Linked DNA regions of Homo sapiens. The protein of the gene in region 2 purifies or fractionates together with the protein of the main gene of each other region. This does not show direct contact. Each region holds a gene or a part of one and is shown on either strand. Other genes may lie near its edges.

Region 1 (3,500 bases), on a different chromosome or scaffold from region 2:
CATCAAGTCATCCCCTGAGAAGCTGCAGTTAAACCACATGTTGATAGTTTATATTACAGGTCCATTCTAGTGTACCCATGGAAGAAATAATACTATAAAGAAGTCTTCCCATTTATTGAATACCTATTTTTGTGCCAAGTGCTTTTACATGTTTTAACTGTTATCTTCATGACTGCTCTATATGGAAAATAGTAACTCCATTTTGCACACAAAAGGCATCAAAGTTCAGAAATGTTCGTACTCACTGAAGGCACACAGAAGTTAGTGGCAGAACAAGAATTTGAAGCAGGTCTCCTGCAGAAAAGCTAGATGCTCTCATAGTATCTGTCAGATAACATAGTTGAACCTGAAAGAGGGTGATCAGGAATGGTACACTGGATAACTCCCACACTAAAGAATGTGAGTCGACAACACGTCTTTATGATTTGCTTTGTTCATTAGCATTAGGAAAAAACTGCTCTGTTTTCAAGAACTTTAAAAATTCAGCTTTCCTGCAATTCATAGAAGAGCTTTATTTCATTTTTCTCCTTTACAAATAAGCAAAATGAGATTTAAGATTTTAGAAGTATACTAAAAATGATTTTTAGAAATGAGTTTAGAATATCTCCAAAACATGGTATTTATGATATGACCATTTTTAAAAGAATTTTAAATTATTATTTTTCTTTTCCTTTTGCAGCAAACTTGTCTCTTACCTTTATCTGACCTACATTGGAATAGCGAATTATCACTAAATACATTTTACTGAGAAAAATCTGATGTTTTTGCATTTATCTTAGGAACCATGGACACTGAATCTAAAAAGGACCCTGAAGGTTGTGACAAAAGTGATGACAAAAACACTGTAAACCTCTTTGGGAAAGTTATTGAAACCACAGAGCAAGATCAGGAGCCCAGCGAGGCCACCGTTGGGAATGGTGAGGTCACTCTAACGTATGCAACAGGAACAAAAGAAGAGAGTGCTGGAGTTCAGGGTAAGTGAGCACACAAATTACGTTCTGTTGGTTGGCTGGGGAGGGGTCAGTCCTAGGTGCAGAAAGATATCTGCTAATCTAAAGATGATATATCAATATCTAGTTTAGTGTACTCTTCAAAGTTCTGTATGCCTTTGGAAAAGCATATGTCAGATCATTTTATTCACACTGGGATTTCCATTTTTGCTCTGTTATCTTTGAATGTAAAGGACAGAAATTTATATGTACATTCTCCAGTCATAATCATGCAGTTTTAGGGTATTGTGAGAGATAATCAACTTCTTTTCTGGCACAGATAAATAGAGAAGTATTTCCACAAGCTTAATAGTCACCCTGTCTAGATTCTGGCTTAACCGTCATACTGAAATAGAACTTTGCCTTAAAATAGGAACTTTTCTTTTTATCTTGTGCCCTCTTTGAAGAAGTAGGATTAGGAGAAAATGTACTTTTGCGTTTACTGTGAACCAATACTTATTAGCATATGTGTCATGATTCTAGGTCATCCTAGATCGTACTAAGAAGACGTCTATAAAAGCAAAGGTAGTAAATATTTAGAGTTGGTGGCCACATGTGGTGTCTATCACATATGCTTTTTTTTTACACCCCTTTAAAAATGTATAAGCCATGATTAGCTAGGGAGCTATATGAAAAGCAGGCCATAAACAGGTTTTGGCCCAAAGGTCACAAATGCCATTCCCTGACCTTAATGGAACAAACTTTACAAAAACGTGAGTGGCTCATTGAACGTCTCTGTTTATGGCAGAGATGTGTGTTTTTTCACACATTGCCTAACAAGCTAATTGTTAGAGATTCCAATGAAGGATTATTTCACCAAGATATTGGTGATTTAAAATCATGGTAAAATCTAACATTGTTTGGAGATTGTTTTCCTTAAAATAACAGATAATGGTCGTTCCCTTAAAATAATACATTTCTAAACTTTTTTCCTCTAACAAATCATACACAGATTCTTTAAGATCAATCTCTAACTATATTTGTCAGTGACCCAGTGTCCAATTCTGCTTTTTCTAGTCCACACAATCCAAAAGCATTGAAAGAACATTTTCAACTAAAATGATATGTCAAGGTGTCAGAACACTGATGCTGGTCAGTTTGTCCTTAAGCATGCCATACCCATAAAACAAAAGTAGGAACACTCAACTATGATTGTGGTCATTGCCTTACAGATAACCTCTTTCTAGAGAAGGCTATGCAGCTTGCAAAGAGGCATGCCAATGCCCTTTTCGACTACGCGGTGACAGGAGACGTGAAGATGCTGCTGGCCGTCCAGCGCCATCTCACTGCTGTGCAGGATGAGAATGGGGACAGGTAAGTCAGAACTTTTGCATGATAGGTTGTCCTGGGTGGGGAAGAAGAAGAGCATCGTATAATGCATACTGACTAGAGATAAAAATAATTGTTCAAATATATTGAGTCCTCTAACTGGAATGATGAAGAAAAATAATGTGTGAATAAGGTTAAGTAGCACAATTTGCTGCTCCATCCTGCTGCTGTCATCTGTTGGAATCTGTAGTAGCTGGAGGACTCATCTAAGAGTGAATCTCTCTGGGCAAGAAAACTAAGATGTGTGTAGGTAATGGTACTTTTTGAAAAGCCTTGCTTTGTTTATTGAAGTAATATTTGGAGAATTGTTAAGAGTCCTACCAAATCCCTGAAGCATTGTTATCCCAGCTGCATATTTATGACAGTGTACTCAAGAAAAAGCCCAATAAAGGCAGCAACAACAACAGAAAGATTAAGAGGGACTGGTCATTATTTCCCAGTTACTGGTTTCTTCTCTGCTCCCTCTTCTGATGGTCATCAGTCTATGACTGTTTCAGACTTTTGTGACTGCTCCAGCCCATATGTGGGAGTGGAACATTCCAAACACCATGCCTTCCATTCTTGCTATTACTGAGATTGTATTTGCAAAGCCACCTGGCTTCTTTCTAAAACAGTTCTCTTAGTCCTTTCATTGAGACTTCTAAAATGATCTCAAAAGCCTATAAAAATAACAAGAGACAGCAGCCTTCACATTCAAGTCAAGTGCCTTATCTAAAACCTTCCTAAAATAGCATCAACATAGAGAAATCCTTTTCTGTGGAAGAGCTCTTGAGTGCTGTGTTTTAGACTTCAGTTTAAAAATTAAACCAAGCACTTTAGGAAAGTAACAACCTCAGGGTTTCAAGCAGAGACACCTTTGTTCTCATTCCTTGCAACGTAACCAAGGATGTGGTATAACCACTGGCCTTGTTATACAGTATGAGAGGAACCAGTACAACCTTCTTGGTATAAAGCCATGAACAGCAGAATTCTTTTTCAGGGTTAAATAATCCAGTTAGCATTCAGTAGCATACAACCACAAGAAAAAGCAGTTAACCAAGACAGTACAGCAGTGTTTCAAGTGGCATTTCCAGGGACCTGTTAAATTGATAAGTCTAAGAAGATGAGCACATACAGGTTAGAAAGGAAGTGCTGATATCTGAAGGGAGGATTGTTGGAAGGGATACAAGGCGAGGCACATGC
Region 2 (3,500 bases):
GACAGAATAGAGAGATATGGACTGGGCAATGGCACATATAGATGACTACAGACCGGATGTCGCAGTGTGGGTGCCCTGGGCATATTGATGCGGCATCAGTGCTAGCTTGGAGGGAAATATTATAATAATAGGTACTAATAGCTAGTGTCATGGGTGCTGTCCTTGGTTCTGACCCGTTTAACGTGTTTGCCAACATGGTTTAACATGTTTGCCTTAGTACTTTAGCCCATCATGCAGGTCTGGTGTGGAATACCCACTCTTCTGGGTGTGACAAAAATCAGAATTCTAGAGACTGAAATGGATGGGTCAGACAAAGCTTTGAAGGTGAATTATAGTAAGGATAAATATAAACCGCACAAAGCTGCCCCCCACCTTTCCAACTAGCTGTGCAAATAGAGCATTCGGGGAAATTGTTTCAATAGATGTTTTTGGGGGAGAGGCCTGGGATTTTATTCTAACTTACTGCCATCTTAGGCGTCTTCTGTGATATGACTATCAGATGAAGGCAGTGCAGCCTTTGACCACATTAACTGTAAATGACATGCAGGAAAGGACAGTGGTCCCAGTGTAGTCTTTATTCTTAGACCATAGCTTGGGTCTTTGATCTAGTCCAGAGTAAGAGAATTTTAGTATATGAAGGACCTGGAAATTATAACCAATGGTATAATAATAGTCATTCTTAGAATTGAAGGAACTTTAGTTTGTAAAGCATTTTTCATGCATCATCTCATTTTGATATTTTCAGAATCAAGTAGAGATTATCGTAATCTTATACAGATGAGGAAACTGACTCTGAAAGTTTAATAATTTACCTACATCTGGCCTTTCAACAACCAAGTTTAGTGCTATTATACTACTTCTAATTATTTTGAGAAAAGAGAACAGATATTAACCTTGTAGAGTGCTTGTCTATAAAATGTTTTCATAAAACTGTTGAATTTGATTCTGACAGACAGTGTAAGAAAGGATAGTTGTTACTGGTGATTACCATTTTGTATGTTAGGGCACAAAAATTCAAGGCACAGGGATGTTTCAGTGTTTGTTTCATGTCATAGAACTAGTAAGTGGTGAACCTGGGACTTGAAATGGGAATTTTCTGATGATAAGTTCTGTGTTCTCGTCCCTACACAGAATAAGCTTGGGGAGAAGCTTTATTTCTTGCAACTGTAGAAGACATACTTACCGCCACAGGATGGGAGTTTACAGGTGGCAACAGTGGTGGCCATGTTGATCATCTTCCCATTGTGAATGTCAGGCAGAGGCTGAAAGTGGTTTTCTTTGAGAGTATCCTTGTATCGTGGGAGGTTGAAGCCAATGACCTCTAAGATTCTAGGATTTGTAGACATGGGGCTATTGCTTTTGAGGATTGTCCCATCTGTTTAGGAACAGAAAATGGATACTCACGAAAGGGAGATGAAAAGATTGACAAAAATACATTTAAGCACAATCGACTTTAATTCTTGGATTGCCATTTAACTTTTCATAAGTTTTTCAAGATGAGTCGGTGTTTTGCCTTTTTTGTCTTCTGATCTCCCAGGGATTCACACCGGGTATGGATTAATGGGGATATGATTTGTTATGAGAGACAGTGAGTAAGATGGGAATGAACACAAACTTTGAAGCAAGAAATCCGAGTTCCAGTAGTAAAGCCAAGGGAGTGTAAAATCTTGAGTTCTTTACCTTTCTGTGCTTCATCTGTCAAACTTGGGGCGTCATTGCCCTATAGGAGTGCTGTGAGAGTTATATAAAAGAAAATGAAAAGTCTTATCTTAATATTTGACAAATAACAGAACTGTCCAAGGTCAGCTTTTACACACAGAGAAGAGTTGCTATCAATTGTTTTATCGTAAAAAATCAGAACCAAAAAGAAGTGTATATGTTTATGTACTCATGGATTTGAGTATCTGTAGAACTTTTGATATGACTAAAATATTTTACTTGGTTCAGGATTTCTTTATTCCTCTTATCTTTAAGGAAATGATGGCTGGTACCTTTCTATCTCTCTTCCCGTTCCTTCATTCCCTTTTCTGTTTTGTAGAGCAAGGCTTAGATCACATAGCAGAAAACATTCTTTCGTACCTGGATGCCAGGTCTCTGTGTGCAGCAGAGCTGGTATGTAAAGAATGGCAGCGAGTGATCTCAGAAGGAATGCTTTGGAAGAAGCTGATTGAACGAATGGTACGCACTGATCCCCTATGGAAAGGACTTTCAGAAAGAAGAGGGTGGTAAGTACTTGGGTTGCTTGTTCCCTTGAAAAAATTTTATTGACATAGAGTCAGCTTGATTACTCAAAAATGCAATTATACTTGCAAATGTGCTGGCCTATTTTTAAAAAGGGGGGAAAATGAGTGGTCAAAAGTTGGAAGAAAAAGTTAAAGCTGTTAAAATTTCTCCCTCTGAAATGTGTATTTCCTTTATGAACTGTATTATATAGTTTGATGGGATTTGGCGTTTCAAAGCTATGTATTTATGTTTTTTCCTTCACATTTTGCTTAGTTGATGATACCATTACCAAAATATAGATATGACAAAAATATGAGAAAGTCAGATAGTGCCATTTTGCTGTTTGTTATTACTGCTGGTTGAGGAAGTAATAACAGTGATAGGATTTTTCAGAGAAAACTCATAACTCTGATGCAGCTTTATAGCTAGCTGTATGCTGTATGGCCCAGTTAGCAAAGAGAGAGAGCTACAGACAGAGGTGCATATAGGGCTGTATTTTCCTTACGGGAGGAAGTTTGATGTGTACTAAGTTAGATTTTTCACAAAGCTACATTAGCGCTTTTTATTAAACTCTATGGAATGAAAGGCTAGATTGTTACATATTAGTACTCAGAAAACACGATCAGGATTTTGTTAGAGAGCTGTGAATTGAGCTAAACTTGTCTGTAACATGTAAATTTGTCAGAAATCCTGCTTTTGAACTGTTAAAACTCAATGCAAATTAAAAGACATGAAAGATATATCTTTGTCAGCACCATGTTTAGATAAAATTCACCCTTTTATGTGCAAAAATGTAACATCTGTTTGTTTTTATTTGCCAGGGATCAGTACCTGTTTAAAAACAGACCCACAGATGGCCCTCCAAATTCATTTTATAGGTCATTATACCCAAAGATTATCCAGGATATAGAGGTAACTTTATGATTTATCTGTTTTATGGGCTCTTTGTTTCTTGTTCTCAACTTTTTATGTTGCCTTAGAGTGTTCTTTTGGTCTAAAATCGTAGAACTAATAATTTTTTTTAAAAAGTTGAGCTTTTGGAGTAAATGTGTCATGTTGTATATAATCTGCAGCTATTCTGCAGAGAAAATAATGTCTTTTGCAAAGAATATCTAACTTTTCTAAAACATGAAATGCTTCTGCAAGGCTGCCGGTTAATTCAAACCTTAATCTAAAATCATCTTTTTATTCTAAGCTGATAAATTTTCCAAAATCCAAGGCCCCGTTTTTTTAAGTAAGCATTGTTTTACATTTTTGAGCCATCTCTAGAGAACTAG
Region 3 (3,500 bases), on a different chromosome or scaffold from region 2:
AAGAGATTTTCTAATGGAATATCACTAGATAATTTTATTATAATGCATATACGAATGTTAACCTCTTACATATATTCATGCATTCATTTATTCAACAAATATTTATTGAACACCTATTATGTGCTAGCAGCTATTCTAGAACATAGCAGTGGACACCTTCCTGATGCTCACATCTAGTGAGAGGCATCATAGCAACAATCAAATACATAGATGCAGATGTACATGCATAAGCAAGAATAACACTTCAGATTGTGGTGTGTCCTGTGAAGAAAATCATGATATCTTAGAGTTTCAAAGGAAGAAGAGAAAGCTACTGTGGGTGAGATCTCTCTGAGGAGGGAACATTTGACCTGAGATATGAGACATTTCGCATGGGAAGAGCTTTCCAGGCAGAGGGAGTAGCAGTTGCAAGTCTTGAGGTGGAAAGGAGAAAAGGGTGAGTGTGGCTGGAACTTGGTAGGTATGAGATATGTCAAGGAGGCTGGGAGGTGCCTGCAAAGAGAGCCTGGTGGGCCCTTTAAAAGGATAGTGAAATCTTTGAAAAGTTTTAAGCAATAAAGTCTTACAAGGTAATTTGTAGTTTTCAAAAGATCCATGCTGTGTGGAGGACAGTAGTAGAGGCAGGGAGGCCAGTTGGGTGGCTGTCACTACACAGACCAAGGGAGGGAGAGGGCAGCTTGGAGTTAGAGATTGGCAGGAGATGGCAAATTCAGAATCTATTGTGAGGATCAACCTACAAGAACTTGTGGATGGGTTGGTTGATGGGTAATGAAGGAAAGGGAGGAATCCAGGATGAGACCATGATGTAAATGTTGGTTGAAGGTACCATTTACTAAGATTAGGAAAACCGAGAGAACAAAAATCAGGTTTTCTGTTTTGTGCATGTGAATTCTGAGATGACTATTGGACAACCAGGTGGAGGGTGTGGTTAGGCAGATGGTGGTGAGATGGGGAGTGGATAGGAGAGGTCAGGGATAGTGGGAGGAATTTGAGCGACATCAGTATGTTAATGTCATGTAAAGCCTGGGGGCTTTAAGGGAGTGCAGGGGGCCAAGAGAGGAGAGCCTGGGGCCTGATTCTGGGGCACAGCACTATTTAAGTTTGGGTGTAAATGGAGAAGCCAGCAAACACTATTGAGAAGCAGCAGCCAAATAAGTAGAAGGAAAACTAGAAAATCTAAAGTCCAATAAGCCAAGAGAAGAAATAGTTCCAAAAAGTGGGTGGGGAGTAATGAACTGTATTGAATGCTGCTGAGATATAGAATAAGAAAGAGAGAGAGAGATGTTCATTTGGATTAGATAAGATGGAACTTACTAGTGTCCTTGACAAGAGAAGTTTGAGTGATGTGCTTGGAGTAGGCTGAGCAGCCGATGAGAGGTGTGGACAGAGGGACACAGGAAAAACTCTTTTGACAAGTTTTTTGGAAAGGAGAACAAAGAGGAGGAGGAATAGCTGGAAGGCCTATGGCCTAGGTTTTTTTAAAAGATGGGATACAGTAGACCCTAGTGTTATGACTAAAGCATCATGGGAATTATGTGGAAGAGGGGTTATTAGTTTTCTATTGTAGTGTAGTGTAACAAATTACTACAAATTTTTTTTTGCTTTAAAACAGTTCTTAGAGTTTCTGTGGGTTAGGAGTCTAGGCTCAGCTTAACTAGGTTTTCTGTGAAGAGTCTCACAAGGCTGCAATCAGGGTGCTACATGGGTTGAGTTCTCATCTGAAGGCTTGACCAGGGAATAATTAACTTGTAAGCTTACATAGATTGTTGGCAGAATTCATTCCCTTGCATCTGTAGGACTGAGGGTCCTAGCTTCTTGCTGGTTATCAGTTGGAAGTTGTTCTCAGCTTGTAGAGCTCTTCTCCCCCTCCCCTTCCCTACTTACTGCTGTTTTTTGTCACATGGGACTCCTTAGCTTGGCCTCTTACTTCATCAAGCCAGCAAGGAGAATCTTAGAGCCTGCCTGCCAGCAAGATGGAGCCTTGCATAATGCAATGTAGTCAGGAGGAATAGGCCAGAAACTTGGCCATATTCTGTTGGTTAGAAGTAAGTCACAGGTTCCACCCACAACCTAAGGAGAGGGAATTTTACAAGGTTATAAACACCAGGTGGTGAGGATCATTGAGGGGTCATTTAGGGAGGAACCAAAGATGTAGAGAAAAGAAAAAACTACAGGAGGAAAGTCCTTGGAAAGCCTTAGGGAGGGAACCTGAAACCCAAGTAAAGGGCTGGCCTTTGGGAACCTTCCTCCATTAGATTGGAGAGAAGATGGAGAATATGAGTCCAGATGTGGGTATATTTTCTATATTGGGTGATGATCAGATGACAGTAGTTTTCTGATGGCTTCTGTTTTCTCCATGTAGCAGAAAGGAAGGTCATCAGCTGAGGGTGAGGGAGATTTGAAGTAAGAGCTGAAGGCATTGAGAGCAAATGTACTAGGGAGATGAATAGAGTTGCCAGACAGTATCAAGGACGCAACTGAGGTTTGTGATTCCACATTTATAGTTCAAGTAGTCTGTCTGGGTATGTGATTTTCCCAACTTTATTCCATGGCCTCATGCATAGAGTAATATAATAAAAATAATCCCAGCTAAATTTATTGAGTGCTTACCAGGGCCAGCACAAATCCAAGTGCATAGTCTCATTTAAATTTCATTACATATCCTCGAGTCAGGCATTATTGTTATCAACTTCATTCTACAGAAGGGATGAGCGACTTATTTAAAGATAAAAAGCTGTTAGGCATCAGAGCAGGGGTTTGAACCCTGCACAGTCAAACCCCAGAGGTGGCACCCACATGCATTACACTACGTTGCCTCTTGTAGAGAAAGTGGAGGACTGGATTGAGCAGAGGTGGGGTTTAGCCTGATGAGTGAGCAATAGAAAGAAAGAGATGGAATTATTGTTGAGAGAGTTGGCAAGTGTATGATGATAGACTGAGTGACATAAGAAGAGTGAGGGCAGGAGGGAGTGAGGGAAGGCAGAAAAATCATGTGTCAGTGGGTTGGAGAAAACAAAGGGTAAGCCAAAAAAATCAATAAAAGAATGGGAATGAAATCCACGACAGTTTGGGTTCCGCAGTAATATTAATTCAAACAAATATTTGTTGGGTATTTGTGAGACAGGAACTTTACTAAATGCTTTATATGAAGGAGGATCTTACAAAAATTTATGACTTGGGAATCAGTATAGCTCCCATTCGCCATCTGATGATGCTGACTGGAGGTGAAATATCACACTCCAGTATGTGGCCACAAGTGGGGAGCATGGGCTCACATCCATAGCCTGTGCCTTTAATCACTGAACTGGCATCTTTCTATATGTATTGGGATTCATGTGCCCATTTATTTCCAGGAAGATTTGAGAGGGCTGAGGAAACAGAGATAGATGCTACTAAGTAGCTGAGATTTGTTGCTTGATTACTCTAATGGATACTAATGTGGGCTTTAAATGAGATAAGAGAAACTTTGTATTACATGGTTTTCAATTTCTGATCAAAAG
Region 4 (3,500 bases), on a different chromosome or scaffold from region 2:
GGAGCAATGTGGTTTAGAGCTCAGTATTGACAGGTAAAGTAAAATTAATGTCATCAGCGATTTGAAGAAAGACTATGTGGTCAGTTGAAATGGACTGGTATGATTTTCTAAAACTAGGAGAATTAAAATTTCCTGTGCTATTCAGAATTTTAGTATGACAGATTAGTTTAATAGGACTAAACAAGAGTATTAAAATTTTGTTTGGATTTCCTATACAGAATTCTAAATTTGAATTACTGGAAACATTTCTTTATTTCCCCAGATTTTAACAACTCATTATTTGACTTTTGTATTTGAACATAGTTCATTTTTCTTTGGTGTCAGATTAGTGTCAATCTTTAAATTGAGAGTTTCAAATTATAGTCGTTTTAAATGTCTTATCACATTTGTAGGTTTCGTCTAAGGAAAAAAACATGGAAGAATCCTGGCACTGTCTTTTTGGATTATCATATTTATGAAGAAGATATTAATATTTCCAGCAACTGGGAGGTTTTCCTTGAAGTTCTTGATGGTATTTTCAATATTTTTGGGGGGAAGTATCAGTTAGAAATACTCTAGAACTAATAGAAGCCTATAGTTTTTAATCAAATAATGAGTTACGAGGAATCTAATATACATTATAGTGTTTTGTGTTATATTAAGCATAACGATATCCTTATTATGGATTGATGTGATTCCTACCTACGTCTTATCCTTGGGAGTTTTATTTTCTTCCCCTGTGTCCTAATGTAACTGCTTAAGTTGTTTTTGAAAGAATAATCAGTGTCTTTCAGCCTTCTGCTATCTTTCTCTGGTTCCCATTTGCCTTTTAAGTATTCTTTTTTTGAATGTTGAGAATATTAATTCCCCCTTATGAGGAAATTACAAAGTTAGGTTTTTAATACATTTTAAGAAAACTCTGCTAATATTTTCTTAGCCACGTTTGTTCTTTAGTTTCTTTTTTACTATTATGGCTTATTTTGTATTGAAGACATGGTACTGATAATTTATCAGAGACTCAAGAACAATGACTATTTGTGTCCTAAGCCAGGTGGCTTAAAGAATAGAAGTGTATTGTCTCACAATCTGAGATCAGGCTGTCAACAGGGTTGGTTCCTTCTGAGTGCTGTGGGGGAGAATCTGTTCCATACTCTCTCCTAGCTTCTGTGGTTTTTGGCCATCATTGGCAACCTTGGCTTGTAGATACATCACCCCAGTCTCTGCCTTCATCTTCATGTGGTGTTCTTTCTGTGGGCTTGTCTGTCTGTATTGTTTTCCCCTTTTTCATAAACCACTAGTCCTATTGTATTAGGGCCCACCCTGAAGACCTTATTTTACTTTGAGTATCACTGGAAAGACCCTATTTCCAAATAAGGTCACATTCTGAGGTACTAGGGATTAGGATTTCAAAATGTCTTTTTGTGGGGGGCACAATTCAACCCATAGCAGTGACCTTGAGGAGGTCCAAGTAGCAGACATACTTGTCACACCTCCCAGTTTTCGTTATCAACATTGGCACATTTAAAGTATTGGTGTTTGGAGGGAGGCTTATAGGAGGAAAGTTGGCTTTTAGAAGATCACATCAAGGTAAACAACTAGTTCTATATTCTTTTTTTGCTGTTGCTTAGGAAAATTTTAATTTTCCTTTTCTTCTGTAGAAAGTAAAATATGAATTCTGGATATTTTGTTACAAGATTATCCTAGTTTTTAGAGAGCTCAATAATACTAACACCTCATGTATTTCAGGCTGCTTCAGGTCTAATTCAACCATAAATTTAAATGGTTGAAATTCTGATTAATTGACAAGTTAAGTTGGGAGGTAAGGAACAACTAGGATACCATCTACTATGGTGTGTAGGCAAGTGCTCCAGATTGTGATTTCTTTGAGTATCTGGGGTCGTAGGGAATAATCACTGTGCCTGGGTAAGTCAGGAAGAGATCATAAATGACAAAGAAGTCACCCTTGTAAGGATTGAGTATGTATTAGCAGAGATGGATTCATCTGAAAATGGTACTAGATGGTGGGTGCCTGCATCAGTATTATTTCAGTATATTTTCACATCAAGATAGTTGAGTAAGAAATGTCATGTGATTAAATCCAAGAGGTATTTATTGACCTGTAATTTGCCAGACACTGCTAATCCCTTGTGCTACAAAAATGAGTAAGAACCACTTATTGGTGCACACAGTCTGTGGAAGAAACAGAACTGCAAACCTGTCATTCTAAAATAATAGGTACTAAGGGACTGAATCAGTAGAAGTTCTTCTTGTGTACACCAGAGAAAAGTGACAATTGAGTTGATGCTTGAAAAGTGACAATTGAGTTGATGCTTGAAAAGTGACATAATGGAAAAGTGACAATTTTGAAGAATCACTAAATTGGGGAGTAAATGGAAAGAGAAGGATTAATAATAGCTTTAGTGAAAAAAGAGGATAAAGTGAAGTTGATTTGTTTATGATTTTAGATAGGGATAGGAGCCAATAGAGAAACAAAGATTGGAAATCCAGAGAAGAGAGTAATTGGTAATGCAGTGTTCAACAGGAGTCAGGAGGGAGTGGAATTAGGAGTACTGGTTTGAAGAAGAGAGGAATTATCTTCTGAGACTGGAGAGAAGAGAGTAAATATTTCATTCTCAAAAACTCCTTGGGATAATTGGGTTTTTTCTTGTGCCCACTTTTTAAGAGTAACACTTGAAGTAAATCTTTTTGTTTAGTAAGGCACTAAGGGAAAAGTCAAATTATGAACCTTCAGAGGAAATAGAATGATGACCTAATCTTGCATATTCTTAGGGGTAGAGAAGATGAAGTCCATGTCACAGCTTGCAGTTTTGTCAAGACGGTGGAAGCCTTCAGAGATGAAGTTGGATCCCTTCCAGGAGGTTGTATTGGAAAGCAGTAGTGTGGACGAATTGCGAGAGAAGGTAAGTTCATTTTAAACAAAACATGTATCTTATGTTGTATATGTATATCATAATATTAATAAAATATATAATATATAAACAATACATTCTTCCTGTGTTGCGTAAGAGAAAACCTAGGAAGTAGTACCAAACACTGGTGCAGCAACCTTTCTTTTTGGTTTCTGTCACACCTTGTGGCACACTCTGGTTGTTCAGGCTCCTGATTCTTTGAAAAATTACTTTGGCTCCTGGCCATTCAGAAGTGGATCCTCACTTTCTGTTACTTGGACCAATTTTGTCCTAAGTAGTTAGAATTAGTTAGAAGTTACTAGAGTGAATTGCTTTATGTCTAAAAAAAACCAAATGAAGTCGAATTGTGTAGAGAATCCAGATGAAGGTCTGTTTTGCATTTTAAGATGGGATATCTAAGGATCTCTGGGGAAAGGGTGAATTAGTCAATCTGTGGTACTAGCACAATGAGCATTTTGAAAAAGATTTATTTCCATACTTCATACTAAACACAAAAATAAATTCTAAATGTATTAAGTTTATATATAAAAAAAGTAAATGTACTAGGTGAAAATATGTAAAATATTAAATACTAAAAATATTTTCATATTC

Evidence for each region. The genes of interacting proteins can lie anywhere in the genome.
Region 1: the proteins of FBXW11 (region 2) and NFKB1 purify together in Homo sapiens (affinity purification with mass spectrometry; 8 studies listed by BioGRID and IntAct, with this or other methods). This does not show direct contact.
Region 3: the proteins of FBXW11 (region 2) and ZNF704 purify together in Homo sapiens (affinity purification with mass spectrometry; 5 studies listed by BioGRID and IntAct, with this or other methods). This does not show direct contact.
Region 4: the proteins of FBXW11 (region 2) and USP47 purify together in Homo sapiens (affinity purification with mass spectrometry; 11 studies listed by BioGRID and IntAct, with this or other methods). This does not show direct contact.

Annotation. Positions count from the first base shown.
Region 1 is NC_000004.12:102,595,359-102,598,858, forward strand, and holds part of NFKB1 (nuclear factor NF-kappa-B p105 subunit), read left to right. Parts: intron 1-779; coding exon 780-974; intron 975-2,161; coding exon 2,162-2,303; exon of another isoform or gene 2,304-3,500.
Region 2 is NC_000005.10:171,898,639-171,902,138, reverse strand, and holds part of FBXW11 (F-box/WD repeat-containing protein 11), read left to right. Parts: intron 1-2,038; coding exon 2,039-2,225; intron 2,226-3,044; coding exon 3,045-3,135; intron 3,136-3,500.
Region 3 is NC_000008.11:80,868,282-80,871,781, reverse strand, and holds part of ZNF704 (zinc finger protein 704), read left to right. Parts: intron 1-3,500.
Region 4 is NC_000011.10:11,949,972-11,953,471, forward strand, and holds part of USP47 (ubiquitin carboxyl-terminal hydrolase 47), read left to right. Parts: coding exon 1-33; intron 34-392; coding exon 393-511; intron 512-2,769; coding exon 2,770-2,900; intron 2,901-3,500. UniProt on the Homo sapiens protein: Ubiquitin-specific protease that specifically deubiquitinates monoubiquitinated DNA polymerase beta (POLB), stabilizing POLB thereby playing a role in base-excision repair (BER). Acts as a regulator of cell growth and genome integrity.